Homo sapiens: one gene and its partner. The protein of the gene in region 2 interacts with the protein of the main gene of each other region in a pairwise test. Each region holds a gene or a part of one and is shown on either strand. Other genes may lie near its edges.

Region 1 (15,836 bases), on a different chromosome or scaffold from region 2:
TAGAATTAAACCAGTTTCAATCCTTCACTTTCCTAAAAGGGCCTGATTGGAAGCTGGGTGGGGACTTTTGCTATAAAACCCAAGCCTTCCCTTTGTTCTCTGAACTGCACTTTCATTTTACACTGGCTGCAACTCCTGGGTTTGCAAACCGTTCACTGGAATAAAATCTCTTTCCCCCAAATTCCTTTTCAGAGAACTTTTGTTCACAGTATCCACAGATAACTGCTCTTTGCTTTGGGGCTGGTACAGCTGGGAAGGTATCATTTGAAGCTACTCTGCAACTTTCCTTTTTTTAAACACTTGAGTTCTTGACACAATAATTCTGCACTGAAAATGCACTACTATGTAAATCAGCTACTTCTCATATTTCCACGGAATTTTGTAGTTTTAAACATGTAACCAACCAGAAGGCCTTCAATAATCACCCAAAAAGTAATAAAGATTTTAAACTTTTAAATTCCTCCATGTAAATGGTTGCTTCTACTGATGATTGATTATAATTTTATTTTTCCTTTTATGAGGCATTGTGACAGAACAGAAAAAATCAAGAGTTTTCTTAAAGGGCTGCCTTGGTTCTTGCTAATACCAAAAAGCTGTTTCTGATATAACTTTGTTCCCTTCAGTTAACGATTCGGGTAGGCCTAGGGAGAGGCTGGGAAGCACATAGAAAGTACCCTCATTCAGAGACAGGAGAACTGGTCCCTAATCTGATCCATGACCTTGGTAAACTTATCATCCTCTCTTCCTCCTCACCCCCCTCACATATGACAAAAGCTTGAGGCTGGATACAAAGCTCCTTATGGATTGAAATTCCCTAAATCTAAACCACAAACACAATGAGCTCAATTTTAAAACCCTTATAGCAAACCACAGAATGACAATTTACTATTGTTGAAATAAAAAACTCATCTCTAGCAATGTATACCTTTTCCAAACATAGAATTCTCTCAATGAGAATTGACAGAAACAATGGACAGCACAGCCAAACACCCAGTTTTAAAGAACCCGAATGAAATTTAACTTTTCAAGAAGCAAAATGCCTCTCCTGCCTCTGCTCTTACCTGAAATGGTATAATCTGCATTGACGACCCTCATAGCAGGGGTGTAGGTAACTGCTGGCATGCTTGATTCCTTTCCCTTCTGCTTGTGTCTATAAATAATGAACAATGCCAGTAGGAAGAGAACAACTAGGACAAGAATGATGATGCCTGCAATGGCCCCGATCTGGTAGGAATCAGCAGGGAGAGCAGTACTGGTTCGGCTTAAGCTGTTCAGATTTCCAACTATGATAACACCAGCTAGAAAAAGAAGAGAGACTTGAGAAAGGATGACAATGTGCTGGATAAACGTTTGATCTCTACTTACAAAAACCTCCTTCTGTGCTAATGCCTGCATATTTTCAGTTCATAAAACATTAATTTGGAAACAGAGCAGGAAGAAAAAGCAAACATTCCTCATTGTCAGATGTTGTCGGCCTATCCATGCCCAGAGAAAGGCTGCTGTAAGCCTCAAAAAGAGACAGAAGCTGGGCACAGTGATGCGTGCCCGGAGTTCCAGCTACTCAGGAGACTGAGGCGGGAGAACTGATCTAGCCTAGCAGTTAGAGACCAGCCTGGCCAACATAGCAAGACCCTGTCCCTAAAAAAATATAAAGAAAGAGACAGGATTTTCTGAACCCAAAGAGATTCAACAGTAGGATTTGAGAGCTTCTTATATATTTCCGATTAAATACTTAGACTGGCAATTAATTTGGGGTAACAATTTATCTAATTTTTATTTTGCTTTATTTATTATTCAATACTGAGCTTATGCAGAGTTAAATGCTAAATGTCCCAACTGCTTAACCAAATTTTATGTCTATCCTTAGCATTTCTAAGAGTAATTTTCCTTCCAAGCAAGCATAACACCATTATAAATCTAGTCTAAGAACAGGATCTACCTTTTGCTAATTTCAATGGGTCTTTTACCTCAGAAGATATTGTTCTGTGCAAAGTTATTTTCCATGACAGAAAGATTTGTCCTGATAATACCTGATAGCATTACCCTAATACCTTACTCATTAAATTCAAAATTGGGCATTACATAGTTCTTCCTTATGGTCCGTCAAGTGATAACGCTAAAGGCATGGGTTGAGATTCAAGAAATCTGGCATCTAAAAAAATTGACCTAGATATTCTGAACTTTCACTTAAGCTTTCAGGCTGCAGTTTTATCATCTATAAATGAGAAAAGAGGCCTCCATGTCACTGCTTCCAGCTCAAGTAAATGTTCCTATGATTTTATGATTCTAAATGCTGAAGGACCTTTTTACAAAACAATCTGCCCTGAAACACAGACCACCAAGGATAATGTAGTGAGATTACAGAGTATTTGTAATTATGACGTGATAATGAAAGATCACATTCTATTGTTATGACAGTCAAATGTAAATCATAAGCATGTAAAAGTCATTTTACCAAAGAAATTAAATGTTGTAAATATTTACATGGTCTGCAGTTTAAGATTACTCCATCTACAACAGTGTATCAATTTTCTAAAGCCTTTTATAGCCCAACTGCTTATTGCCTACCAGGGAGTACCACATGCAGTAAGAGCTGTGGCTCTCTGGAGGGCATGCTTCAGAACCATCAGAAGCACTTTCTCAAAGTCCCCAACCCTGGAATCGGAATTTCCCAAATAGGACCATGTACCTGACAACTATTCCCAGGTCGTTATGACATACACCCCAATTGAAAACCAGGGGCACAAGTTTTACAAAAAGTTAAACATATGTCTACTATATACCCCAATTATTCTACTCCTAGGTATTTACCCAAGAGAAATGAAAGCACATGTCCATGCAAAAACTGGATTCACTCTTGTTCATAGCAGCTTTATCTGTAATAGCCCCAAACTGGAAACAATCCACCTGTCCATCAGCACATGAACAGGTAAACAAATTATAGTATATCCATACAATGGAATAGTATTCAGCAATGAAAAGAACTGAATTGTTGATATGTGCTACAACATGGTTCCATTTCAAAATAATTATGCTGAGTAAACAAAGCCAGACCCAAAAGAGTACAGTATGATTTCATTTATATAAAATTCTAGAAAATGAAAACTAATCTATACTGACAGAAAAGAGATGAGTGATTACCTGGGGCTTAAGGGGTGGTAGAAGTAGGGAGGGGCATGAGGAAACACATGGTGATGGATATTTCATTTATTATGGTGATGGTTTCATAGGTATATAGATAGTCGAGATTTTATTAAATTGTACACATTAAATAGGTGTGTTTTTTGTGTATCAATTACACCTCAATAAAGCTGAAAAAAAATCATAGACCCAGTAGAAAGTTCATGAGTTTTGGAATAACAAAAATCTGGCACAAAAGCTGTGACATATTCTAGTATTAGCTATGTGACTTTGGGAAAATTACTCAGCCTCTCTAAGCTTTTGTTTCTTTATCTGCAGGACAGCAACAATAAGGCATTCATCTGGCAATTAAATAAGTAACCAATTATGCCATTTAGAGTTGTGGTGAAGATTCTGCTGGATAACATAAGTGAAAATACTTCACATTGCCTGGTACATGGTGTTCACACAATACTGCAGTGCTACAAACATTAGCTAGTATATTTACCTTGATCACATCTCGCTCCCTTCCATCCGGGGCTGCAGTAACAGGTCCCAGTGATGTGGTCGCAGGTGGAGTTGTTCAGACAATCACATATCTGGCGACAGCCATAGCCATATGTTCCTGAAGGGCACTCTAGAGAAGGAAAGTCAAATGTAGCTTTCCAACCTTGGGAATTTGGAGCAAGGCTGTCTCTGACTGCAAGCCCTGCACATCTAGAGCTGAGTCCTTTCAGGGGATTCCTATTGAGGCTGACTTGTACCCCCAAGAGTGTCCCAGAACTGGACAGCATTCCTGGAATCATGGTGGCACTCACAGTCCAGACTGCACAGGGCTAGAGACAGGGCTGCTCAACATTAGAGCTCCTGACACTTTCAGCTGCTACATACTTACCTCTATGATGTGTATATGGAGAGTCTGTGGAATTCCCATGGAACAGATGAAGATAATCACTAAGGGCAATTTGATACAAGTCCACCAGGCAAAACTGTAGGCTGGAAGGGGCCTAGACTGAAGAGCACTAAAGATGCTTTCTTGAGAACATATATATTTTACTGTAGGCTCAGGGATCTTCATAAACGCACATTCTCAATTGAATTAGCCAGGAATAGGGGAAGATGCAAACAACAAGTTTTGCTGATTTTCTAGGTAAGAACTTCATTTGCTATGGAGTGATTCAAACTCTGGATTTTGTTGAAGTCTTGAAGACGAAAGTAATAGGATTCTTACTATGCGGTCTTAATAAGAGTTAGGCATGAATTTCAAAGGATAGTGTAAGCATGTTAAATCTAAAAATCTTCGTGACAAAATATTGATATTTTTCATAAAGTGAGCAGCAGGGGGCAATGTGCTATTATTATTAGAACTCTCTGTCAAACACAGGGTTTCTGTTTACAAATAAGCATTGGGAGAAGTCTCCAAAAATAGGGACACTTTAATTTGCTGTTGAGAGTAATCATGGAAGCACTTAAGAGGTTTTCTTATTTAATAAGACCTTAACCAGTCATCTGGCATTCAAGTAAAATTTTGAGCCTATTCTGGTTTCCATGCATATTTAGACATTTATACACAAACACACAATATTTATATGCACAATAGAGTTATGTATGCAACTGTGTCACTCAGTCAGGATCTGTTTTCATGACTCAATGAAACAGTGATGCAAAACTAAAATTGGGCTGTCTCTGTTGTGAGCTGATTCCTGGACGTCACTTTTGTTATATTTGCTAGAAAGAGGATATGCAAAAATACCCTAGGGTTTAGCACATAAAATTGAGGCAACCAGGTTCAGAGTGGCTCTGTGAGGTGCCAGTGGAGTGGGGTGGGGAGGGGTGCTTTATTGTCAGAGTCCTGCTATCCTGATCAATCTTTCCAGGCCACACCACTCCTATGGCCATAATCTTGGCAGATCCTTCCCAAGAGTACAACCTCTGGTGAACAGGAATTGTTCTTCACCTTTTCCCGCCCAAAAGGTTTTATCATAAGAAAGTGGGTCTGATACAGCCCTAAGCCCTTATTTATTTATCGTGAATACTGAAAGAAAGTCATAGAGGAAAGGAATAATAAACTAATTTGCAATATTCAATTTTATTAAGACTAATGTTTTTATAACTCTGTGAGGGGATGCATAGCTAGTGGGGTGGAAATAAAAAAATAAGGATGAGTAATTCCAACGGCATATTCTCCCCCAGTGGGACTTAAACAAAATTTTAAGGCAGTATGTTGTCTGGAAGGTTGTTAAGACTAAGATGAGAAGTTGTTAATGGAAGCAGTATAAAAGTACGATCTAGAGAAGGTTGTTGAAAGGGTGGCAATGTTTGCATGGATGTGTTCCCTCACCAGCAACAGGGATTGGCCCTGGGCCACCAGCCCTCCTCCCCACCGAATGTACTGTCCTCCAATGTGAGACCCGGGTTCTGCCTCTGCCATGAAGAAAGCTCGACTGGATCTTTTAAGGCTCTGAGCAGCCACATTCCAAAAATAAGAAGGAGAGGAAGGGAGAGCCCAAAAGAACAGAATGGAAAACTTGAATTCTGTCTTCATTCTTGTAGTCACACCTCCTCCGCCCAGAGCAGTGAGTAACCAGCGATGATCCCAGGGAGGCCTGACCTCTGGGAGGGGAAGTCAGTCATGCTGAGAAGTAACCAGCCATCAGCTCAAACAACCTCGGAGTGGTGAATTCTGCCTTAATATTTCCTGGCATCTAGGAAATGTGATTCTAGAGGAAAAAAATACCACCCAGTGATGCCACACTCTCATACTTACTCTGCTCACAGTGCCGTCCCATGAATCCAGTGCGGCAAGTACACTGCCCAGAAATGTGGTCGCAGTCAGCTCCGTTTTGACATTGGCATATCAGTGCACAATCTTTTCCATAAAACCCTAGAGGACATCCTGTGGGAGGAGGGAGGACAGTAGGAGTCAAGAGGCTGCTGAAGAGAAACACTTGGAGGCTCGTGCCTCCAACATATTTGTGTTTAAACTTGAATGACACTGAGCCATCAGAGAATACAGTGAATAGTACATATCTGAGCTTGCCACAAGAGCTTCTTTGAAGTCCCAAGACAGGGCTCTTGCAAGGAGGTTGTAATTCATAAGCAGGAGGCAGAAGAGTTCCATTCCTGTCAGTGTAACCATCACTGGTACCCCTGGAGGCAAGACTAGTGCCTTCTAACAAAATATCCCTTCAATCCTGGAAGAATAGGACATTTCCTTTCATTCTTTCACATTTCTACTAGAATCCTGGACTCAAATTCCAATGGACTGAGACGGGTACTTTATATTAAAATTACCTGTATGCTTTTACTTGTAGTACAGAACATCTCTATTGTTGCTACTAGCCTTGTCCACTGTATCTGTTATTATCTTAGATAATATCAACTTCCCTGAAGAGGTGTACTAGAATGCTTACCTTAAAAAACAATTGTACTTCACAGGTGCTTTGTAAAAAGCAATAACCCTTCACACTGCTGCATGATTTTCAATGCTTAGACCGGCGAGTCTCTTGAGCTAAAGACACCCACAAATTCTGTTGGCTTACATGGGCTGGCAGCTGCCCTGCAAGAGTGTCTTGGGGATCTCTGGCGTGATGAAAGATTCAATGCAGGCTGATTCAATGATTGTTTCCAAATATTACATATGCTTTTCATTTTCTCATTTTCTTATGGAACTTTCAAGAAGCAGAGGCAGTGCCCAGATGCCAGTATGCACCGATGACTCCCTGCTGTCATGCATTTATTTAGCACCTACTCTGTGCCAGATTCTTTTCATGCGTTCTCTTGTTTAATCTTTACAGCAGGCCAGAAATGCAGGGATGGATATTCCCGTCTTGTAGACAGGAACTAAGCCCCAAGTACCCTAAGTCACACAGCTGGCAACTGGCAGGACGGCAGGGCCATGATTCAAACACAGGGAGGTCTGGCTCTGGACCCCATGTTGTTCCCACTATATCATGTTACTTGCACTTGAAAAAGGGTTCTCTCTTTGAAGCACGTTCTAATTTTAGAATTATAAATAATATCTTACAAGTACCTTTCTCTAAGAAGTTAAACAATATTTATAGATATACGAACTCTGAAGAATATGCTTGGGCCAGCTACCTTCCTTGCCAATTATCCTTTTCAACTCTTGGTTCAAGGTCTACATTATCTTCTAGAAAGTTTCTAAGACTTTTTCAGCCTATTCTTTAATTATGTACTCTAATTAGTATTAAATAAGAATTGCTCAATTTCAGACCCATCTGTCCTCCTCAGCTTCTTGCTATTATTTTAAAATATACGCTATTATTAGTACTTAACCATAACACATGCCTTCCTTTCTTGTCTCCTTTATTCAACCGAAGGTAAGAGGTCAGAGAATGATCTTCCTTCCCCAATGATGCTCAGCTTTGGAGTAAGTACTTTGCACACTATATCCTATCATGCTAAAAGCCTAATGGAAGAAAAAATGGTTAGGATGCTATGAATTACAAAATGGGGAAAAGAACTAGGGCAGTGGCTCTCAAAGCATGGTCCCAGCCTGGCATTACTACCAGTTGATAAAAATGGCAATTCTCAGGTGCCAGCCCAGACTCGCTGCTTCCGGCTTTCTGGGGATGGAACTAGCTTCTGTGTTTGTTGTGTCCTCCAGGTGATTCTGAAGCTTGCTACCATTCGAAAAACACGGAACTCCACCTTTTCCAAGAGCGCACATTAAATCAGGCAGTGAGGCTTGTTGTCTTCTCTACCTTTCTAATCTCTATACTTATCCTAACTTTTGTGCTGTTAAAGGATTGAGAATTTGATCCATATAAATATGATTTGGTTAAAGGAGAGAAGAGAAATAAACTGCATACCATCACACAGCATTGCTCTACCTCAGTGGAGATAGAACCTAGAGACAGAATACTTGGAATGAAGTAGCTCTTAATCACTTAGAGAAATTTATATGTCTACAGGTCATTAGGAGAGGGAAGTACTCCAACCTCAGGGACCTTTGTTGAGCTCCAGTCACGCATGCGGAGGGTAAGGCTGTTTCCTCCTTGGACAAGGCTCCCCTTGGTGAGCCTCAGAAGGCTTGTCACTTACTCTGAGTGCAGTAGAGCCCTGTCCAGCCAGGAGTGCATTTACATTCCCCATCGTAGGCGCTGCAGAAAGCTCCATTATGGCAGTTGCACGTGTGGATGCAGTTTGGGCCCCAGTGGGCAGGTGGACATGCTGAAATTACAGGTATGGAGAAGTCCATCAGAGTTCTGAGGCCAATACTAAGTAGGGAGAATTCCATCCACCTCTACACATCTCCCTGCATGTGAGAGGTTAGCAGTGTACATCAGGACTAAGAAAGCACACTGCTCTGAATTCTGCACTAAATCCCAGATGGCCATGGCAACTTCAACAACGACTGTCATTATTGACATATGTATTCATTTACAACTGCAGAGTGAGGTGGCTGGGGCAAAAATCACCTCAAGTTTACAGATTCAGTTATTAAACAAACACATATTCAACACCTATTATGTACCCAACACTGTTCCAGGCCCAAGGGAGATAGCAGAGTATAAGACAAAGTCCAAACCATCCTCTGGAAGCTTCTATTTTGGTAGGGGAGGCAGGCAAACCAACCAACCAACCAACAAAATGAAAAATCAATGGTGGTAGGTATTATGAAAAAACATAAGGAGGATAAGGAAGACAATAATTTTGGGAGCTACTCCTCTGAGGAAGGCCTCTGTGAGGAGAGGACATTTGAGCAGAGATAAGGTGTGGAAAATGACTTGACTCAAGAGAGGTTAAAGGACCCAAGGCCATGTAGCTCATGTTCACAATTTCTAAATCCTGTACCCTTCAGTCTACTCTAGAGTTGCCACTTCAGGCTCCTTTTAAATATTGAGGTTCCCAGCGGTATGTAAAAATTGGTTTCCTTGTAAAAACTCTTAACTGGAAGATCCAGAAAATAATACAATTAAATCATTAGGGGTCACTGCCGATTGAAGAGACATCAGAAAGTCAGATAAAGTATCTGTGAAATAATAGCATAAGATCAGGGGGTAAAATAATTTCATTGACAAAAAATACTTTTTATTCATATTAATACTTTAGGAACATAATTGCATAAAAGGAGGACCACCTGTAATTTCTATACGGCTACCCCATAGGGAATGTGGACCTATAAAGACAATCAATAATACATATGAAGTAACTTTTTAAATGAAAAAAATTCTTCCATAATTGTGTGCACCATGTCCAAGAGCAAGGGGAAAATACTAGCTGACACTTGAGGTCTCGAGTGAGCATTGGAACAAATTTTCTAAATACAACACCTTAATTTTACAGATGAAGAAACTGAGCACACAAAAGGTTAATAGTGACTCGTACAAGGTCACATAGATTAATAATAATATTTGTTATTTGTTAGACAAATACAGCTTTCCCAAAGCCACAGTGAGACTCAGTGAAAACTGTTGAAGCGTCTAGCCCATTTGATGCTCAGTGAAGCACTCTTTACCTAAAACAACCTATTCCTTAGATGATATTTAACCAGCTTCTGTAAACCCATTTATGTTCACAATATATTTTTCTGAGGTAACCCACTGCCATTAGGTTTTTCTCCCTATATTTGTTATGATCAGAGAATGGGAATAAGCATCACTCAACTTTATATTCCCAAAAGGTAAACGTAGAGATAGTGCTTTAAAAAATCATTTTCCCAAGGACACCTGCCCCTTTAAATGTACCCCTTTAAGTTTTCAAAGTCTGTGTTTTCACTGTGAAGGACTTTGCTCTCTTTAGACAGGCTCACAATCAGCTAAGAAGAAATATGAAGATGGTTCCACAGAGTCCATAAGGGAATCAATGAAATCAATGATCCCCAGGAGAAGCAAAGGCTTTTGCCAAATAAGTCAGCTTCCTGTGGAGTGATTATTGGGACAGGCAACACTATAGTCTCCATTCATAGTTGTGTTTCTATTTTTATTCCTTTCAGCACATTCCTCCTCCAAATGAGGAAGGGACAAATTTCCAAAATAAAGACTACTTTTTAAAGGAGCAATATAAATCAATCATTTTGTGACAATGATATTGGACCTTTTACTCTTCCCAAACCCATACGCCCAACCATCAGTCAGAGCCCTTGCAACACATGTAGATTTAAACAGACTGATTTCTTCTGAAGTGATGCCCCCAGAATGGAGTGAAATCATATCGCATAACACTTCTTTCACCAAAGAGCTACACTTCTGAGATTTATTAGCTCTCTTCCCTTATTCCTAAAAAATGGGGTACAGCCTGGACTACTTATGGAAAAAATTAACATTCAGAAAAAAATCTTCCAGCAAAAAATATATTGCTCATCAATTAGTATTTGCAGGTTGCTTGTAACTGTGAAGTTTGAATTAAATTATCAATAAAGCACCATGTAAAATGACTGCACACAGTCATTCTTTGATTTCTCTTATGTGCATGATGGGGGAATTCAATATAAACTGAGAGTGTTTCATAAAATTTAAAATGAATGAAACCAGATTACTCCATACATATGCTATTTTTTGGTCAAAAGTTGAATACTTTTAGACATTGCACTGACCCTTTCAAAACATTCATGAATGACTTATAGTCGATGTCATTTTTTTCATGACATGGGTGCTCTAAGAGTCATCTATATAGTCCCTTATAGGGTCACACAATTCCTGTCTGAAATCCAGTGGTGTGGAAGGCACTTGGGTGATGCCAAGGTGAAGCTAAGCATATTAGGTGGGCAGTTCGCTCAGGTTCCCAATAGGTTTCTAAGGCTCACATCATTTAATTCCATTTTTTCTTTCTCTGTAATTAACTCTCCAGATAAACACAAAATGAAGAGATAGATTTCTCAATACAGCTGTTTTTGCTTTATTTCAATGGACGATGAATCACTGAAAAGGGGATAAGGAAAATGTTACATATTTAGGTTCTTTCCAAGACATTATTTGGATTTAAACATAGGACCATTGCATAGAGGTCGTAATGGGAAAAAAAAAAAGAATTTTAAAAAAAGAATTTAAAGTAGAATGTGTCTTTTAATTAGTCATATATTCTTTCTTGATTATATAAAAACACTCATACTTCAATCCTAAAGAATCTGAAAACAAACAAATAAGAACAGTTTATTAATTGTTCTCAAACAAGACTTACGTTGAGAGCAGTCACTGCCAATCCAACCGGGGTAACACTGACAAGATCTGTCAATGGGGTTACAGGTTCCGTTGTTGGTGCAGGTACAAATTCCTGCACAGTTTTTCCCAAATCTGCCACTGGGACACACTGTGAATAAGCTATAGGTCAGTAACTCACAATCAAAACCCCTCTCGCAGAACCCTAGAATCTTAGCACAGGAAATAACTTTAAAGGTCACAGGCCCAGCTGCTCATTGGTAGCTATCTCTGCTCAACAGCATCCTTCATCTTGAATGGGCTCATTTTTACAAATCCATGAAGCCAAAGATTTGCATTAAGGCATCACAAACCAGGGGACATCATTGCACTTCTAGAAATATGACTTCACGACTTCTTGCTCTGGGAGTCTAAAATTCTTCCGCATATTGATTTTTTATGGGAGGACATGTCCAGCTAAAACTGAAGAGTAGCACATCTCAGGAAATAAAAAGGTTTTGCTGGAGTGGCAAGCCAGCTTTTCCAAAGCTCAAAGTCCTATCTGAGAAGCTGCAGACACAGCACAGCAGAAGACATTCCCAGCAGACAGCTGAAAACATGGCCTTCAGGAAGGCCAAGGGGAGGCCTGAGGACAGACTCTCCGGGGCGTGCTCATCACCACCCAGCTGTCCGGGATGCTTCGTGCCTTACCTTCATTGCAGAGGGCGCCTGTGAAGCCAGGCAAGCAGTCACACAGGCCGGTGATGTGGTGGCAGGGCCCGCTGCTGTGAACGCACTGTGGGCATGTCTGGCTGCAGCGATGCCCATAAAAACCAGGGGAGCAGACTGAAAACAGAAGGGAAATCAGCAGTTATCCTTCTGAGATGCGTTTGTCTCGCATTCCAGATCGGGATCTAGTTAAAGTTTTAGAGGTTAAAAAGCAAAACCTTAAAAAAAAGTAAAAAAGATACGGAGAATTTTCCAAGTAGAAAACAAGAACAACAAAGGAACAAAGGAACCCTTTAATGAGGAAAAGAAGCCACTAAACTCTGAGTTTCTTGAGAGCAAGCAAATGTCTTAGTCTTCTTTATTTTCCCATTTAAGGCCCCAGTTAGCTCAAGTCTTGGCATAAAGCAGGGCTCCAGGAATTTTCATTGAATAAATAAAGAGATAAAAAAATTGAAATACTAATAAGTCTCAAATAAGTACTCTCAAACCATTTGTTGATTCTTTATTCTTTAAGAGTCGTTTCTGGCAATAAAAATCGATCAACAGTCAAAATTTGAAGATTTTTCCTCCTCAAAATGGTCCAGGTTAATGACTGTAATCGAAAAGTGATTAACCAAAATGCTATATACTTAAGTTCTTGCCAAGATACTATTCAGATTTAAATATATGATAACTGCATAGAATTCTTATGGGGGGAAAGGCAATTTAAAAAATTAGAATAGTATAACTTATAATTAGTTACATATTCTTTTTTGATTGCATTTACTAAAAGATTACTTAATCTTCTAACTCAGAAGTCTTAAGGACCAATGTCAACAGTCTCCTTTTTCAACTTTGCAATTCCATTTTCCCCATAGCACTGATTTTAAGACTACTAGCAGGATGAATGATTTGCCTCAAGGTTTGGCTGATGTTGACGTCTGGTAATTGAGGTAAGGCCAATGCCAAACTGCTGAATAACATATTTACAGGTCAGTGAATTTCTAGAACACCATTCCAAAGCTTTCAGGAAGGGTGAAGAAATATATCCTGATGGTTGTGCCAATGAGGCAATGAAGTAATTATTGAGAAGAAATGGTTAAATCCCCATCTGTTAGGTTAGTTCTGAAGGCTGGAAAGAATGAAGCTCTTAGGGAACACAGTTCTGCAAAGGACAAGTGAACCATTACACTCTCTTTTGCCTTCAACTGCAACAGGACATCACTATAAACTGAGAGGTGGGACAGAGATCATTATTCGATACATGGTGCCCAGGGAAGGGAAGGTGGAAATTACTGCCTAATGAGACACTTACTCCTCTGACAAGTGGTGCCTCGGAAGCCTGGTGCACACTCGCAGATGCCATCATCAGGGGAGCATGAAGCCCCATTTTTACAGTAGCAGGGCAGGGAGCAGTTGGGGCCCCAGCGTCCCTCAGCACACACGCTGTCACAGTGGACACCTGAAATAATGCACATGGGGCAAGGCTGAGTGAGAGGCAGTGCGGAGTTTCCGCAGATGCTAATTCATAGATGAGGACTAAGCTCACAGTGTTAAACCTGAGGATCACCAGCAGCAATGAATGGAGAGTTACCATCTTATAAACATCAATACACAGTATCATAACATTAAAATAATACCCAGACCGATTTTCTATGGAGTCATGAAGAACGAATAACAAACTTTTGTTATATTGATTTTTCTTCTTCAGGAGGAGGCAATAAAGTGGAAGCCCAAGGGCTCTGTCTATTGCAAGTAAAATTTATCAACAATACGATATCTTTTAGCCCTTGGTGACTTCCTCCTCCTCCTCCCATTCTTTGTTTTCACAGAGAAATAAAGTGTAAAAGGATAAGGCAATGAACAGTTCCATAAAATGTTTTACATAAAGAAAACCCTCCCCTGGATGAAACAAATAAACATAATCTTAAAATAACTTGATGGTGCATTGTGCAGAACAGAAAGATGCACTGACACGTGCCACCAAATTCCTCCTTAAAAATCTTACCTGACATTGGAGAGATATTGGCAGAATATCACAACTGACATTATTTGTAGCTGTTGTCTATGCTATCGATTATTATGAAACTGTATGCAGTTGTTTAACTCTAATTTTAAATACTGAGAAACTTTAGAATTAAAAAAAATGACAAAAGGAAACAGAAAGGAAAGCTAAGTTTGCAAAAATAAAACTAAAACCAGGTTTTATTTGAGATAAATAAAAGTCTCTTCTGTACATTCGTATTGGAAATACAACAGGGGCCTCTTTCTTGCCAGAATTCCTCACAACTCAAAGAAATGTTCTTCACATTGAAAGGCAATAAGTTATAATTAGTAGTGAACTGGCAGTTGCTGGCCTCAGACCAAATGAAAACACATTAAGAGCAAGCACGCAGACCCTCCAGGATTCCAGAATACTAACAACCACCCAGTACCACGATGCTGAGACGGTCATGTCTTGTGTTACAGTTTTGGCTTCTAAAGTAATCAGGCAAAAAGTCACCACAGTCTGAACCTTAACATGGAAGCAGTCCCAAACTATAATGTGAATGTTGTTAATTGGTACACCATTTCCGGTGAACACTGGAATAGCAAGAAGATCCACTTTTTACTGTTCCTGTTTTTTTCCTTCTGAAAGTCTCCCACGTGGTAAAGGCCATTAAATAGGCAAGAAAGCATGCAGACCTCATTGTGTCTAGCTTGACCCAACAATAGACTTTTATTTCATTCGGACCATGGGCTGAAGAAAGGAGACCAGGTCTGTTCATAAACCAATTGGGGTTTAAATGTTTCCCATAGAATAAAGTATGAAATCTGGGCCTACTATGTTGATTTTTTTCTTGCAATCATAAATATATTATTTTTTTTTCAAATCTCTTTTGAAAATCTGAGATGAAATTGCAAACTCTACCCTCACCAGATGTGATACATCAGCCACAGAATCTTACCTGGAATTTATATCCACACCTATACTGGGCAGAAGCATCAAACATATTAAGCAGTAAACCACTTCAAAATGAGGCTGCAAACCTAAACTTTGTTTTGAGAATTTAAAGAAAGTACCAACAAGGGTAACCTGCTAAACACTTCGCTCTCAGTTCAAATTCAGGTCCTAGACTCTGACCGTGAGCCAAGACTCCTGCTTAACAACAGCTAAGATGGGGACACCTGCTTATCACAGAGACTTAGACAATCAACCCAGGGCATTTTGGTCTGATGCCATCAAGACAAATCCCAACGAAGATTTTGAAGAAGTGGAAACTGAGTAATTATCCTGTTAATCTGACTGATCATCATCCTGAAAAAGCAGTCCCGATTTTTTATGCTTTTTTGTTAGGGTGGGGACTTGGGGGACAGGTAAGATTTAGCCATTTATGATGACTTAGTTTATCAACTACTTGCCAAATCACTACTTCAAATTGCACTTAATAAATTCAGTTAAGATGGAATGGAGTACACTTTAGGTCAAAAGTATTTGCTGCTTTTTTATATCATAGGTTATCATGATTTATGTATAGCTTAGCCTATTCTCAATCAGAGCATGGTAAGAAAAATGACTACAGGCCAGATAGGCAAATCTGAATAAAGAGATCCTCTCTTTCATAACTTATTCTTCTTCCCTTAAGAGGTTTGTTCAGCTGATTAGCCTAGCCATCAGTCATAATCAACTATATCCTGGTAATGTTTGTATAAGTAACAAGGCCCACCCTATAGCAAGAAGATCCACTGCAGAGATAAGCTTGTTTCATATGGTTTACCCATCATTTCATTTCCAGAGAATCATAGCAAATTCTATAGATCATTGATCAAACCTTCTGTGTCCAATCATATAAGCATCTTTCAACAGACCCAAGCTTACTTGAAAATAACTTTTAGTTTAGAATTGCAAAGAAATGTTTCCTTTGA
Region 2 (15,836 bases):
GCCGACAGTAAGTCCAGCTGAGGCTGCCAGAATGGGGCAGGTTTTTTGGAAGGTGTCCCCATCCCTTCTGCCCCGAGCATGGTGAGCTGCAAGTCTCTGGAAGGTTCACCTTAGCCAGGGCAGCTTCACACATGGAGGATGCAGTGATATTAAACAGTCAGCCTGCAGACATATCAAGTAAACAAATTATATTTTAAAAGATATTTTTGGCCAGGCACAGTGGCTCATGCCTGTAGTCCCAGCACTTTGGAAGGCCAAGGCAGGAGGATCACCTGAGCCCAGGAAGTTGAGGCTGCAGAGAGCTGTGTTTGCATCACTGCACTCCAGCTGCTTGACAGAACAAGACCCTGCCTCAAAAATTAAAAAAAAAAAAAAGATAAAAGGAATTTTGAAAAATACAAATTTAAACATACAAAACTAGTATCTTGATGCCCCCTGAACTTGAAAATGGGATTGCAGATAAACCCATCCCTGGGAATGTGGGGGGCACCTGGTGCCTGGGGCTCTTGCACCCAGGCCCCAAGTAACTGTAGACATCAGGCATACTAAGGTCAGATAATCTGGGAGAGAGGCTGGAACTTACACAGAGAACACAGTAAAGAGAAGAGGGTTTCCGCCAGATCTTACAAATTTCAAGGATTTGAGGAATTCCGTTGTCCTGAGAATTAGGTTGAAACAGGAAGAGCAACAAGTCCTTTTCGGGCTGTTTACAGCTTTGTGGTTGTTCCTGGTCAGATGGGAAACACCGTGGCAGTAACTCTGGAGGTCCTGTGGCTGCCACGCTGTTGGATGCTGACAGCTGGACATGCAGAAAGGTGTGGAGGGAGAAACAGCCGGCGCCTGTTGACTCTTGCTGATTAGAGGGGGCCTTTTGCAGGCTGGTTTTATGTCCCTCTCTCCCTTTTGTATGTGAAAAGCAACAAAAGATGTCCTTTCCCCCACTAAAATTTATAAATAGAAGTCCACTTACGGCCTTATCCACACGTCAGGGCTATCTCACTGATTACTCTGTTGACAGTTTCTTAGCCTGGGAAAGCCCTGAGCTTGCTGACAGCTCTTTTCTCTCCCTTGGGTGGGCTGTGCTGAGGAATGATGGGCAGGGAGTGGCCCAAGGGCTGCAGCTCGATGTGAGGCCGAGACAGTGGGGTGCACAGCTTCCGTGCACCGGCTCTGCCATGGCCCCTCCACTGCCAACTGGCAGCACAGGTTTCTGCCGAGGAGTCACACTTTAGCTGCAAGGGTTAAGGCAAGGAAGTAAGATTCTCTTTTTTGAGTTGTCTTGATATTTAAATATTTTTTCTTGAGGAGTAGAGTAATGCCAGCATTAGTTTCAGAAATTTGAAAAATACAAATGTACTTCAAGGAATTTTTGCCCTTTCCATTTCTTGAAATTATTTTTGGAATATTATCTTGAAAAGTAGTGTTCCCATTTAACTTAGGCCATTGTAATCATATGCAGTTTATAGATAGTGATGTGATTGTTTATAATCATGCAAGGTCATTTGAAAATACATATCTTTAAATCATGGAGAAAATTAAAACTGGAGGGAAGATCTTTGAACAGATGTGCAGTCGATGGCCAACTGGAACACTGGTGCCTGGAGCATTTGTGCCAGGGGCACTCAGCTGCATCCGGAGGCTGCACAGCTCTGGATCTCTGAGAAAGGGGTCACCTGCCACGTTGTGTTCACTGACCTGCTGTGAGTGACGAAAAGGGAGTTGATGTTTTGTTTGTCTTGGGACCCACCTCTGGGGATGGTAGGCGCCCTCTGGAGTCACCAGCCTCAGAAAAGCACACTTCTGTCAGGATACACAGTCAGTTTCACAGCCCACCGGTTATCCCGAGTTCCTGGGCCCCCCTTTGCCAGGGCACCAAGCCCTCACCTGTCCACCTGGATCTGACCACCAGGGACACGTCCCCCTGTGTGTTTACACTGCCATGTGCAACTTTCCCATGATCTTTCCAGGGGAGGCGCAGGGAGACAGGAAAGTATTGTCCACAAGGATGGGCGCCTGCGTGGGTTTGGCCACCCCCTTTGGGGCTGGTGGCTGCCCCAGGCATCCTCTTTGGCTCTCCTCAGGGTTCTTTGGAGACAAAATGCCCTTCGCTTTGGAAACAGACATATCCTCCTCATTTAGGTAGCTATCACCTCCCATTTTTATTTCTCCTTATTTTGCCTGATAAAAATTTTTAGTTCTGTAAATCAACCATCAACAGGTTATTAGATTGTTGGTTTTGGTTTTGGGTTTTTGTTTTTGTTTTTTCCTGTAACTACAGAAAGACATTTTTCTCTGAATAAACATTTCAACAGAAGTCATTGATTTGTTTTCCTTCTGGAAAATCCATTTTCAATGAATGAACCTCTTTTTGGAAAGCAAACGTAACAGTTTTTGTTGCATGTTCTTGGTTTCTCTCTTTTTCTATCATGGGGAGACATGAGGGCCACGTATTGGTTCACATGTTGCTAGCAGCATTCCCTCCCAGACAGGGACAAATGGGAACTGCTCCACACTTGGTGGTGGTGCCAAGTCTGAGCTTTCTGGCAGCCACGGGGAGAAAATTCCTTTCCTTCACAAACTCTGGCTTTAAATGTGTTTTTACCAAGGAATCCTTTCCTTGTAATGTCAAAACCGGGGCCGAGCACGAATCAGCTCCAGAATTTGCTTCTGCATGCCGGTCGGGGCTCATCTGAGATGAGTGCCCATGGCGACAGTTGTTCGTTGTAGACGGAAAGTCTTTTCTGCATTCTGAGATCACTTTGACTCAGAAATGCTTTTGCCTTTAACTTCATTCCTTCCTTCCAAGATGAAACTTTCCTCAAGATTCCAGTCTGGCTGCAGGAGAGGAGGGTAGGGTCTTAGGATAACAGAACTACCCTGGTGTCAATTCCATAGCATGTTAATCTGTACCATTTTGGCATCACTTCACACTTTGACCCTGCTGTACATTTGTTCATCTTGTTTATTCCATGATTTAATAAGGTTAGTTTCCCATGGCCACCATCCTCCCATGACAGTTTCTGAGGAGGTGCCTGGGAAGGGACGTAACTGCCATGAAAGGGAGCAGTGCGGCCTCTCTGGGCACACGCTGTTCTAGAGTATGCTGAGTTCTTCCCGCTCCACTTGGAACCACTGTGTTCACACAGTGAGGGAAGCGACTTTTCCCTTTCTGGGGGACAGTGCTGCTATGTAAGATGCTGTGAAGGAGGCGTGTGCGTACGTGCATGTGTGTGTGTGTACGTGTCCACAGCGGGTGCTGGAGGATGGAGTGTGTTTTCTTCCCTGCCTTCACGTGTAATTCGGTTGACAAGAACTATTCCATGATGTGCGTGCGGGCTTCAGTGTGAAAGATGAGTATGTACGTACAGTCTTGCTGTGCATCACGGCCTCTCCCACAGTACACAGCACCATCTTTTCTGGCAACCAAGTTTGATGTCATCAAAAAGCTTCTATCTCCTTCCATCTCTGCACCTTCTTGGTCATCCCCCTCCTCCACCTCTTTCAAGTTCTTTCTCCTTTGTCTTTGAATATTGTCTCACTTGTTATAGTCTTTACAAGAGTTGAAATTTCTCAATTTAAGGGCAAAATCATTTGCTAAGAGTCTTACGGGCTCATTCCTTAACATCTGGTTGATGCCAAATTCAAAAAGTATATAAAAATAAGTATTGACCTGAATTCTTCATGCTGTATATCTTAAGACCTCTTATGCATTTGGTAATGCATTAAAGAGAGATTTAAATTTAGTTTCCTTCCTGACCTCATCTTTATTCATAATGTTTAAAGAAGAATAGAAAGTTGAACAAATCTTCCATTTGGTTGTAAAGCTACCATGAATTTCCCACCTGTTGCGTCTCACACGTGATGCTTTGCCCCTGCAGAGAGGTGCTTGGAAGACCATGAGCTGGTGGTCCAGGTGGAGAGTACCATGGCCAGTGAGAGTAAATTTCTATTCAGGAAGAATTACGCAAAATACGAGTTCTTTAAAAATCCCATGGTGAGTCTTACCTCTTCAGGTTTGGGGTTTGGGACTCTTGAAATCTTGAAGTTTATACTTGGGTTTCATAGTATCAGATTAGAAAGTGACTGAGAGGCATGGTGTAGCATATGGGTTTGAGAATCAGAGTTGTAGTTTAATGAAGCAGTCCTTGCTTGAAACCCAGTCTCATGCTTCACTAAATGTGCGTGGGACTGGCTGAAGGTAGAGGTCTCCTTCTTCACATAGACACAGTGTAAAGGGGGTTAGTCTCTAAGACAGGAGCTGGGAGAGGCTGGGTGTTTTCTGTTATTTTGAAAGTTCTCAGTTGAACTGATCAAACACTTAGCAGAAGAAAAACTCATTATTCTCTGCAAATAGCAAATATATTTTGTGATCATACGTGGAAGAATGACTAGAGAAATCAGTGCGATTGGTTGGTGTCTTGAGCTGGTCACCTTGATCTCTCTTTTCTTTCTTTGGGAGAGGCACTTGTCCTGTGAGAGGCCAGGATAGGGAGGGCACCTCCTAGCTCCTGGGGCACTCGCTGTCATCCTGAGTCATGGGTCAGAGCTGCATCAACTGGGGAGAAGACCCAGGGCCATTTCTGACTCTGATAATGTAGCTGCTTTTTTATTCCAAAGTAAGAAATTTGAAGACTGTTTTTGGGGAATGCAGCAGAACAGGCTTTTCTCGTGACTGGGCTTACCTTTTAGTTTCAGGAATTCTTTATCTCACGCTGTGCACTTGTGCCACTGGGCTGGGACGCTGGCATCGCTCTTTGCCATGGAGCATGCTGTGAGACATGAATCCCTTAGTAAACATAGTTGGTATTCCACACTAGTACCCAGCATTTCAGGAAACAAAATACAACCTTTTGAAGGAGGTGTTTCTTCTGTGTGATAGGAGAATAAAAAGGACCGCCATTTTAAATACAGGTGTATGTAATTATACTGGTAGGAATAGTTTTAAAATTGACATATCTATATGACATACCTTCCCTCACTTTGAAGCTAACCTTTTACGTATTTGTTTTTTCCCATTTTCTTAGAATTTCTTCCCAGAACAGATGGTTACTTGGTGCCAGCAGTCAAATGGCAGTCAAACCCAGCTTTTGCAGGTACTGGGCCACAATAGATCTCTGCTGAAATAGACTTTCTGAATAGAAATCCTCTTGGAACTGAATGGCAGCATTGTAAAAAACCTAAAGAGATCGCATCTTTCACCATTTATAACCTTGGCTCTTAAGCCGGAGGGGTGGTTGGGGGGAGGGTTTAGAGTAACCAGAAATTAAAAGTTTCCTTGGAAAATCTGTGTGTAGCTGGGTTCCTTCTAAGCCAAACAGGCACTTACACGATGCCCTTGCTCTGACTTAGAAGAGTCCAGTGATGCCACTGCTGAGTGTGGGCCAGGGGGTGCATGGAGAAACCCCAGTCTCAGGGCTCCCTCCCCAGCTCCTTTCTGAGCAGGGGTCCCAGGTCAGGCCACCGCCTAGCTGCTTGGAAATCTCTGCAGAAGCACAGAGTCTATAGTAAAAGATGATCGGGTTACCACAACAGACTTTTAAAAGTAACTTGCCATATATTACAAATAAAGAAACCTGCTTTAATTGTCCTGATTCATAAAGTCTGTTCTAAGAAAACCTGGTCTCTCCCCACCTCCTCTTCCAGTGGAGGGAGCCACCAGGGCCTCTGTGCCCAGCTCTCACACACACTCCTCCGGGGAAGCTGGGAGTGGGGAATGGGAATGTTACAGCTACACCCTAAAAATGTGCCTGTGTACATGTTAAAAGTGAGAGAATAAACCATTTCCTAAGGCCACCAACAAGATCCAGGTGACATTACATGTAAGAGAAACTACTAAAATGTAGTTCCTACAGAATTCTCCTCATAAGCCCTTTTTCTACGTTGTTATCACCAAATTTGTTTCAGCATCTAAAAGATAAGAGTTTCAGAGCTCTGTTCTGGTGGTGTCTTCAGAAGCCCTTCTGACCATAGCATGTGTCTGTTCTGGCGAGAGGTGTCAGCACTAAGTTACCACCTATACACAGTGAACAGTGAAATAGCAGATTCTGTTTTAATTGCCTTGACTTTGAGAGGATCCATGCGCTTTGTGAAGATGTGCAGTGATCTCTTGAGACTCAAGAAGGACTGACCCAGGTGCACCAGGGCTCTGTCCGACGTGCCTTTCCCACCTGGGGGAAAAGAGCTTTGTCCCCTCCCAGTCTAGTAGCAGGACCTGCCAGCATCACCTCCCCAACTTCGCTCCATGACCTGGCCCTTGGCCTGTCTTCCCTTTGATGAAAAGCGTAGTTTCTTGTTTTGTTTTGTTTTGATAAAGCCTTTATTCTTAAGGCTGCCTGTGGGAAGAGTTAGCTGGAACAGGGGGACATCACCAGGATGTCCTGCACCTGGGTGCATCACTTGCGGACACATGACACCTTTTATGTGACCCTTGACTGGAGGGGTGCCTGGGTAAAAGTGGCCACTACATACTCACTGTCAGTCTCCAGAGTCCCAATCACTTGGTCATGGCACTTGCTCTTGCCCTCAGTCTGATATCAGACTGGATCCTTCAGTGCACTATCTTATAGGGAAATTCATGACTCGTGTTATCACCAGTGTTGGAAAGGTCCATTTGCTTGCATATGTTTAAATACGAATTATGTTCTATGCAACACGAATTGAGATGGGATTTTAAGACTTTGGAAAGGAGAACACTCTCATTTTGATCCAAAAAGGAGTCTTTTAATAATTCAGAAAATGTCAGCTATGCTGATAACATGTCTGCTTTAATTATTTTAGATTAGCATTATGTGATTTTAAAAATTTGTTCTTCAACAGAATTTTCTGAACTCCAGTAGTTGTCCTGAAATTCAAGGGTTTTTGCATGTGAAAGAGCTGGGAAAGAAATCATGGAAAAAGCTGTATGTGTGTTTGCGGAGATCTGGCCTTTATTGCTCCACCAAGGGAACTTCAAAGGTGAGCTTTAAAAGCTACCACCACCAGCCCTAATTCTGCCACAGTCACTCCCCCCAGGTCCTCAGAGTGAACCTGGGCTTCATTTTTAAATGCACCTTAGACTCCTCCAAGCTCAGGACAACTTCTTAATAAGCTAATTGTGCAGCAGCTGAACTTGGAGTCACAGGTTTCCTGGTCTCGCTCAGAAACTAGGTAATAAATAATACAGGCCTAAGAACCCCACCTGCCTAGCCCCACCCCCACTGCGGGTTGGGAGCAGACACCCCTGGCTGCCCCATCACTTCAGAGACTGGCCTAGTTCTCATAAGTTGGGATTTAAGCTAGCTGTAAAGATGTTTGATAGACTATTGCCACCCTAATGCCAGTGTAACTTTATGTATCATAGATATTTCATGAAATAAACTGCAGGCTTGCATGTATCCCCAGTGAGAAGAAGGTGGGAGATGGAAAACAGCTGCAGGCCCTCAAAAGAGAGCTTAGGCCGGAGGCTCCTTTGCTCCCATGTACACTCTTGTCTGCTCTCTTCTTGTGCTGTCCACATATACCCTGTGGCAGGAGCCTTGTCCACCCAATACCTGGCTGAGCACTTACCATCTGAGGGCTGTGGTCTCTTTTGCTCTGGCCAGCAGAGGTGAAAGGGAGCTGGCGGGACCCCAGCACAGGTGTTGAGCATCTGGGAACCGGCTCTGGGAAGGTGTTGGGGCCGGCTCTGGGAAGTCAGCAGCTGCCGACACCTGGGCCAGAGAGAAGGGGCGTCTGCAGAGAGGGGCTTTGAACTGACACAGGGCATGGTAGCTTCCTGACCTCCCAGCTCTGCTGTGTGGCCCGCTCACTGTCCTCGTGTGTGCTGAAGTTGGGAGGGTATTTCGTAGAGCAGGAAACAGAGCTGGGCTGGAGAGTTGAGGAGGAGAAGGGTGGGACAAGCAAGCTACCAGTGGGAAAACCCAAAGTACGGTTGGACTCTGGACTCACAACAAACCAAAGGCAGACAGGCCCTGTGCTCTTAACTCTGACCTTTGGGTTATAGATTTTCTCCTGCTTTTTATCTTGAATATCCGGTCATGGGGCTTTGATTTGCCAGAAGTATCAAATACGTTCCAACAGCCTTGTGTGTCTGAGAACTGGGGAAGTGGGTGTTTTGGGTGAGACTGGGTGAATTTGGTTTTAGTTTAGCACTTATTACACCTCGCGTAATAATCATATGTAATATGTATAGTGTCATCGGGGAAAGTGCTTGTAAGTGTGCAGAGACTGCCCTCTGTCTACCAGAGGTGAACACATTTGCTCTTTGCTGTGCTTGAGACTTTAACCTGGCCAGTGTTGTCACAGGAACCCAGACACCTGCAGCTGCTGGCCGACCTGGAGGACAGCAACATCTTCTCCCTGATCGCTGGCAGGAAGCAGTACAACGCCCCTACAGACCACGGGCTCTGCATAAAGGTACCCACGAGCTGTCCACAGACGGCGCGCATGCTCAGCAGCCCACAGGAGACTGACTTCTTCTCTTGCCCAGCACTTGATTGTTGCTTCTATTGTCTTCAACAGAAACATAGTTTCACACTGGATTTATCCATTCCTGTAAAAACATTTATTGTACACTTGCTGCTATCAGTCCTTGAGTAGCTCAGAAGCTCAAGGACAAGCAGACAGGGATGGATAATGTGGCTAGTGGGCTCAGTGTTTTAGGGAGGGTGGCTTTTGGCATCAAAGGGTGGGCTGTGGCTGTAGCCCAGTACTAGTAGCTGGAAGGGGAGGTGGGGCAAGGGAGGGGACCCCCAGCCTGTCACCTGGGTTGCCTGCATGGTACTGAGTGAGCTGATGGCTTCTGTGTGGGCCTCTGGCTGTGGGGATGGTCAGACAGGAATAGACACAATGCTGCCCACCCTCTGCATGCATGTGTGTGCTGGCATGCACACACACGTGTGCACACACATCTACATGCACATACCCACACGTGCATACATACATGTATAGACATACACCTTTGTGCATACACACAGGTATAGACATACACCTTTGTGCATACACATACATTATACACACATGTACATAGACACACATACACATGTGCACACACCTATAGGCAGAGCCCACTCCTTTTCCCCTGATGAGGTTGTGGTGGTATTAATAATCATAATGGTAGATGATATTTACTGAATGCTTACTGTGCATGATATGTTCCACTGACAGTTTTACATCCATTATCTTAATCTTCACAGCCCCTTGTGGGATAGGAAGTTGGCCACATTGCCCACATCCAGTAGCCAGTGAATAGTTGTGCTTGGAGTTTGCCCTGTAGGCTGACTTATGAGCCATAGCCCAAGCCACATCCCGAGAACACACAATACGGGGAGCCCCTCCTTAGGGGAAAATTTCTTTCCAAAATATCACCTCATACCTTGCTCAGGGAATACTCTTTCGGTTATAAGTAATAGGCGTCTAATTCACACCAGCTAGAGGCCCAAGGCAGCCTCAGGCGGGGCTGGAGGTATGAGCAGCAGCTGGCACTCTCCCTTCCCACCAGCCCACACCAGCCATGCTTGCCTGTCTCTGCAAACGCAGTCTCTGCTTCTCTCATAGCACCAGCCGAGCGCAGGGTAGTCACACCTGTCCCTCAACCCCTCCAGATTCTTGGGAGGGAGAGCTGGGGTGTGTCCAGCATTGTTTCTTGAGTCTGAGGTCGGGGGTTCTTCTGGAGATGCAGGTCAGTTTATGCCTGCAACAATTCTCCTCCCTCACCAAAGGGCCCTGCCTCTGGAGGGGCACCTGTCTTCTCCCCATGGTGCCTACTTCCCCTTCTGTCTCATTCTCCAGAGCCAACATCAGTCTCCCTCTCTGGACCTTCTACTTGGGGTCTGATCTTGGGGCTGCTCAGACATCAGAATCCCTGAGCTCCTCAGGGGTTGCCCCTCTTGGCTAAGCCCTGCAGCAGCCCCTCCTCTCAGTGGCCTGGGGGCAACTTTAAGATCTCTCCTCCTGTAAGTCAGAAGGCAGGTTCTCCTCCCATAGAATCCAGTCCGTCGACAGAGTTAGATGCCTCTTCCTCTTTGTCCTATTGTGCTTACCACATTACGTTGTCCTGTGCTAGTTTGTTTTTCTGTCTCCTCTGAAGTTCCCAAAGGATGGCTTATTATTCAGCTAAGTGGTACACAACCTGGGGCCAGTCCATGGTAGGCACTTAATAAAGTCTTGTCAGGAAGGTGGATGAATGAACGCTTAACACACAGGTGTGTGTGTATCTGCTGTGCTCCTTGCTAGGGGGATCTCCAGCTGGTTGTCTCTGGTTTGTGTCAGATGCAGCCCTGCCTTGACAGAAGCTGTTTCTGACTCCCTGTGTAACACTAACAGGACTTTCTTTTACCTCCTGTAGCCAAACAAAGTCAGGAATGAAACTAAAGAGCTGAGGTTGCTCTGTGCAGAGGACGAGCAAACCAGGACGTGCTGGATGACAGCGTTCAGACTCCTCAAGGTATGTGACATCTTGCGGTTTGTGTTGAGTGCACATCTCTTCGTGGAAAATTGGCCTCTGGACTTGATGTCTATTCTGGCAGGAAAATGCTCGTAACTTTTCCGCTGTTCTGTCACAATATTTTATTTATCAAATGTAGTTAAGCATCTTTCTAAACAAGATCTCAGGAGCTTTTAACAGAGGGCCTAATATTAAACAGGGTAGAGCTAGGTTTTCCGGACTCAGTACTACTGACATTTTGGGTAGAATAATTCTTTGTCGGGGGTCTGGGGGACATCCAAGCATTGCAGGCCACTTAGATGTGTGGCATACCTGGTCTCTGCCTGCTAGATGCCAGTCGCACGCCCGGCCAGTTGAGACAACCAAAAATGTCTCTAAATGTTGCCAAATGTGCCCTGAAGCCAGAGGATGGGGAATTGCCCCTGGTTGAGACCACTAGATTAGAAGAATAGGATTCGAAAAATCAGGACCAGGGAGAAAGGAAATAGTACATGAGGTGTTAATTATTTTCACGACTGAACCAACTCTCAGGTTCCCAAAAAGCCAGGGCCATGAAGTAAACATGATGAATTATACAGTTGACTGAAGCTCCTCAGCAGAGACAGTACCTCCTGACTGTAAGTTCTAAAGGAAATTTATCACGTGGTACTGCATATAGAGTAATGCCCTTGACAGCAATTTCATGCCAGTTGCCAGAGTGATTTCATAGGGCTGTTTACTGTAGTCACTTTGGATTTCCCACAGTGTTTCTGTGCACATATACCATATCCCACATGTCTGGAATTAAGTCTACAGAGTCCTTGTGAGTTGTAAGTTAGCTGGCCCAGGTGAGCTTGGCTAAAGTCCAGGGGTCTCCATAGGAGATGTTCGTTTAGTCAACTGGAGCCAATGGATACAATGGTCTAGGGATTTCTTTACAAAAACTCCCAGCCTTCGTTGAACTGTAGTGGCCTTTGAGCTGGTCCAGAGACTCAAGGTGAAGTCAATTAAGGAGATGGAGGAACTGAAGGAAGCATAGCTCAAAACTTTCCTGGAGGTGCTGCAGATCCAATTCTGAATGTAGTCCTGTTGTCCCATCCACTTGGCAGGTAGCATTTTGCACCCAGTAATCCACAGATTCCAGAGACATTAAGGATACATCCTAGTGCCATTTTTATAGGATGCTGGGGCCCAAACCAAAAGTTCCACAGATTGGCTTCCTGTATCTCTCTCCCAGAACCTTATTTTATGTTTTCACTGATTAAAAAAAGAATTATGGAAATCAAAACTTTACAAATTCATAATGGAAGAGGAAATGTCCATGTTAATACATCATAGATCATAGACCACTCCTGTGTAAGCCGGTTTTCAGTGTAAGGGTCATCAGTGGGAACTGGTCACATAGGTGACATCCATTGAGGGCAGTATTCTGCATGGACCTCCAGAAAGAATGAGATTGCTCTTTGTGTCCTGTTGCGGAAAAATTACTAACAATTAAAAAGCAAAGTACAGAACAGTATATAGAGAGAAGGCTACATTTGTGTGAAGGGAACAGGAAAAATTGGAATATTTGTATTTGATGGTATGCTCATGAACATTGTGTGAGCTGCAGGAGAGAAGAAAGAGGTTGCTTAGTAGGGAGAGGAGATGGGAGAGGCAGCTGTGCAGATAGGGGCAGCGGCCAGGGGTGATCTTTTGAAGCTGTCTGTATATGGTTGAAATTTTAATCTGCAAATGAATCATCTGTTTTGGAAAAGGCAAAAAAAAAAGGAAATGAAAAAGGAAAGTGGTAGTATACTCCAAGAAGCTATGAATTCTATTACTTTGGGTAATATATAATAAATCCAAGTATCAGGTTCTTAACCACTGTTTCTTGGGTGTCTCTCCTTTGTTGCGCTAACATAACGAGCCACAGGAAAGGATGTGGGCAGAGTGACTAATGCAAAACGAACTGACTTTATTGTTGTCAGTGTTAACAATGATGTGTTACATAATATTAAGATTTTTTTGAGCATTTGCTATGGGCCAGGCATTCTTTATCACTTTACTGTTTGTGACAGCTCAGTGACATGCATATTATCATCCTCATTTTGTGGATGACAAAACTGAGGCCCAAGCTGTAGCTGCCACGATGTGGCAGAGCAGGGTCAGAGCCCTGACATTCTGGCCCCAGAACCCCTTTCCTCACTACCATGCTTTGCTGCCCTCCCTAGAGCCACCTGGAAGCTGCCGTGAGTTCTGAATGCATTCCTCTTGTCCCAGCCACTTTGCAGGGAAGCACTTTGCATCCAGTGATACACGGATTCTAGAGTCATTAAGGATACGTCTTAGGTACTATTCTTATAGGAGGCTGGGGAGCCAGACCTGACAGGAAGGTGGCAGTGATGGCCTCGGGGCCGGTCTCAAGTGGAGTGCAAGTGATGTGTTTCTGCCCCAAATAGCCATAGGATTGTAATGCAATCGAAACGCCATTTGAGTGTTGTCGGCACTGATTCATTGCCCACTATACAGAAATGATAACCGGGATAGAGTTAGGGACAGTGGGGAGGTAACTCTTTATGACTCCAGGGTCTCCATGTTGACATTCATTCTAAAACAAGGCATCCCGTGTGTGTGCTCTGCCTTCCTCCAGAGGAGGACACAGGACACCGGATCCCCTTTTAGAGGATAAGAGGGTCTGAGGGCTGAAGTTGACAGGGCCCTTTTACCATCTACTACAAACAGCATCTTCATATCAACCATGGAAAGGCAGAGCTGGGTTGTTATTTTGAATTAACCTAGGACCTTCTTACATCTTTACCTACACAGATACACTTTCTTGAAAAAAATGAATAAATCTTATAACTTGGGTCTACATAGGAGAAAGCTGGCATGGCTTTACTTAGCTTTTCAGAAAGATGCTCTTAGTAGCGCCAGCAGATAATCTTTTGTCTCATTTCTTCCTGTTACATTGTTTGTTAGGTAATTTCTTGGAAGCTGTAGGAGCTGTGTGAATAGTATTAAAACTTTGCAACAATTATTTATTGCCATCTTTCCTCCTCCCTCTGTCTTCTAGAAGTCTCTTAATCTACTGTAGAAACTCATCCCCAAGAGGGAGGTCTTGCCTCATCCACACAAGAGTCCCTAGTACTGATTGCTTTGGTTTTACATGACCTGACATTGAAAAGGCAATGAACGCAGCATTAAACCTTTGCAACAATTATTTATTACCATTTAATCTTTTCTGTCTACACACACCCATATATGTAAATATATACATGCAAACATGTGAATAAAATAAAATGTGTATGTTATTAGGTACCCAAAATTGAGAATATTTGTATCTTCCTGGTATGTCAATTCTAAGACATTATAAAATATGCTTTATTAGCAATGCTCCTTGCCCCAGAGTCTAATCTGGCACATATTAATTTATTTAATGATTTTTACCTCAGCTTTGCTTCATTACACAGTTTTTCTTGGACCATCTTTTTTCTACTTTTCTGGGTCCTTATGTTTAAGGAATATCTCTTATAATCACAATGTAACTATTTTACTTTGATAATCTTTATCTTTTAACCAAAATATTTACTGTGATTTAATTGTATTATTTAGTGTGATAATCATATTTGTATTTGAACCTGCCATTTGCAGTTTTTTCCAGGTTGTCCCACCTCTCTTGTATTCCTTTTCTCTTAATTTTTTAGATTTATTAAGTATATTTATGTTTTTCCCTCTGTTAACCCAATACGTACATGTACATTTACTATTTTCTCCTGGTTACCCTAGATATCACATCTTTTTTTTTTTTTTTTTTTGAGTCAGGGTCTCACCCTGCCTCCCAGGCTGGAGTACGGTGGCATGAGCTCATCTCACTGTAGCCTCAACCTCCCGGGCTCAAACCATCTTCCCACCTCAGCCTCCTGAGTAGCTGGGACTACAGGCATGCACTTCCATGCCCAGCTAATTTTTGTATTTTTTATAGAGACAGGGTTTTGCCATGTTGCCTAGGCTGGTCACAAACTCCTGGACTCAAGCAATCTGCCTGCCTTGGCCTCCCAAAGTACTGGGATTACAGGCGTGAACCACCGCGCCCGGCCTAACATGCCCCTTGAACTTATTAAAATCTTTTATAATGTAGTACATTTACTGACTGCTTTCAGGCAGGCATGAGGACCTTTCACTCCATTTGCTCCATTGTCCCTTTTGAAGGATTCTTGTCATATATATAAAACCTCTTAAGACATAATGTTATTGTTTTATATACTCTTTAATCACCTACATCTTTGCACTTTAATATTTCCTAAATTTGCATTCTTCTCTCTGGGACTAGAAGACCTCAGCTTAGCGGTTCTTTTCATGTGGGCCTGAGAAATTTTCTCACTTTTTGTTTCACTTTCATTCTTGAAGGAACGTTTCACTGGTTATAGGATGCAAGGTTAGCGGTTATTCTCTTCTGCATCTTCCCACTGCATTGTCTTCTGAATCTTATAATTTATGTAAAAACATTAGTTGTCTGTCTTCCCATTGCTTCTGTGAAAATAATGCACGTTTTCCTCTGGTTGTTTTTGACATTTTCTTTGTGTCTGTTTCTCAGCAATTTTTCCATGATATATGCTCGGAGCGGGCTTACTTATCCTACACCCTGAATCTGTAGCTTGACGTCTTTTTGTCAACTTTGGAAAGTTTTTGGCATTATCTCATCAAATATTTCCCCTGACCTGTTCTTGCTCTTCTCTTGCTGGAGTGCAGTCGTTCCTGTATTAGACCTTTGCATCATGTTCTAGGTATTTTTATCTTAGAAATGAGTATGTGCCATGAGACCTAGAGCCAGAACTGAGCTTAGATCCCATGAAAGAAGAGCTGTCCCACTTGATGACTTCACTTCCTGTTTCTGACTCTTTCTTCTTCTCCACATGGTTGGAATGTGTGATTTGGGTGTGTAGGTTGGGATGCTGGATGTGTATGAGACTTTGCAGGGCCCTGAGTCCTCATTGCCAGGATCAGAAAGTGCAGACTACTGAGCCAGTTAGGTGGCAAGCCTCAGCTAGGGAGGGCACTGGGTCTGGAACAGGTCGTGTACGTTCAAAGTCGTGACTGCGGGCAGCTTGCCTCATTCCTCTGTGCTTCAGTTCTGTGCTCTGTAACATGGGGATAATTATAGTGTACAGCTCATAAAATGGAGAGGATTAAATGAAATAACATAAAGCACTTAGACACATAGTGTCTTAGACATATTGAGCCCATAGTGGCACTCAATAAGATTACTTGCTCTTGATGTTATTATGTTTGTCACTGTCCCGCTTATTCCAAAACCAGTCAGCTCTTCCCTCCTGAGGGGCCACAGTAGCAGCAGCACTGAGGCATGCACCATATTGAATGTGAAGTTGAATGATTTGAACTGTGCAGGTCCACTTAGAGATTTTTTTATATATATTAATCTATTATATAAAGT

The links.
Region 1: the proteins of GRB10 (region 2) and MEGF10 interact in a two-hybrid assay, tested with the Homo sapiens proteins (one study listed by BioGRID and IntAct).

Annotation. Positions count from the first base shown.
Region 1 is NC_000005.10:127,430,919-127,446,754, reverse strand, and holds part of MEGF10 (multiple epidermal growth factor-like domains protein 10 isoform a precursor), read right to left. Parts: intron 13,393-15,836; coding exon 13,246-13,392; intron 12,069-13,245; coding exon 11,934-12,068; intron 11,395-11,933; coding exon 11,266-11,394; intron 8,317-11,265; coding exon 8,188-8,316; intron 6,017-8,187; coding exon 5,888-6,016; intron 3,758-5,887; coding exon 3,629-3,757; intron 1,299-3,628; coding exon 1,062-1,298; intron 1-1,061. UniProt on the Homo sapiens protein: Membrane receptor involved in phagocytosis by macrophages and astrocytes of apoptotic cells. Receptor for C1q, an eat-me signal, that binds phosphatidylserine expressed on the surface of apoptotic cells. Cooperates with ABCA1 within the process of engulfment.
Region 2 is NC_000007.14:50,607,328-50,623,163, reverse strand, and holds part of GRB10 (growth factor receptor-bound protein 10), read left to right. Parts: intron 1-3,878; coding exon 3,879-3,994; intron 3,995-5,024; coding exon 5,025-5,093; intron 5,094-6,816; coding exon 6,817-6,954; intron 6,955-8,283; coding exon 8,284-8,394; intron 8,395-10,324; coding exon 10,325-10,423; intron 10,424-15,836.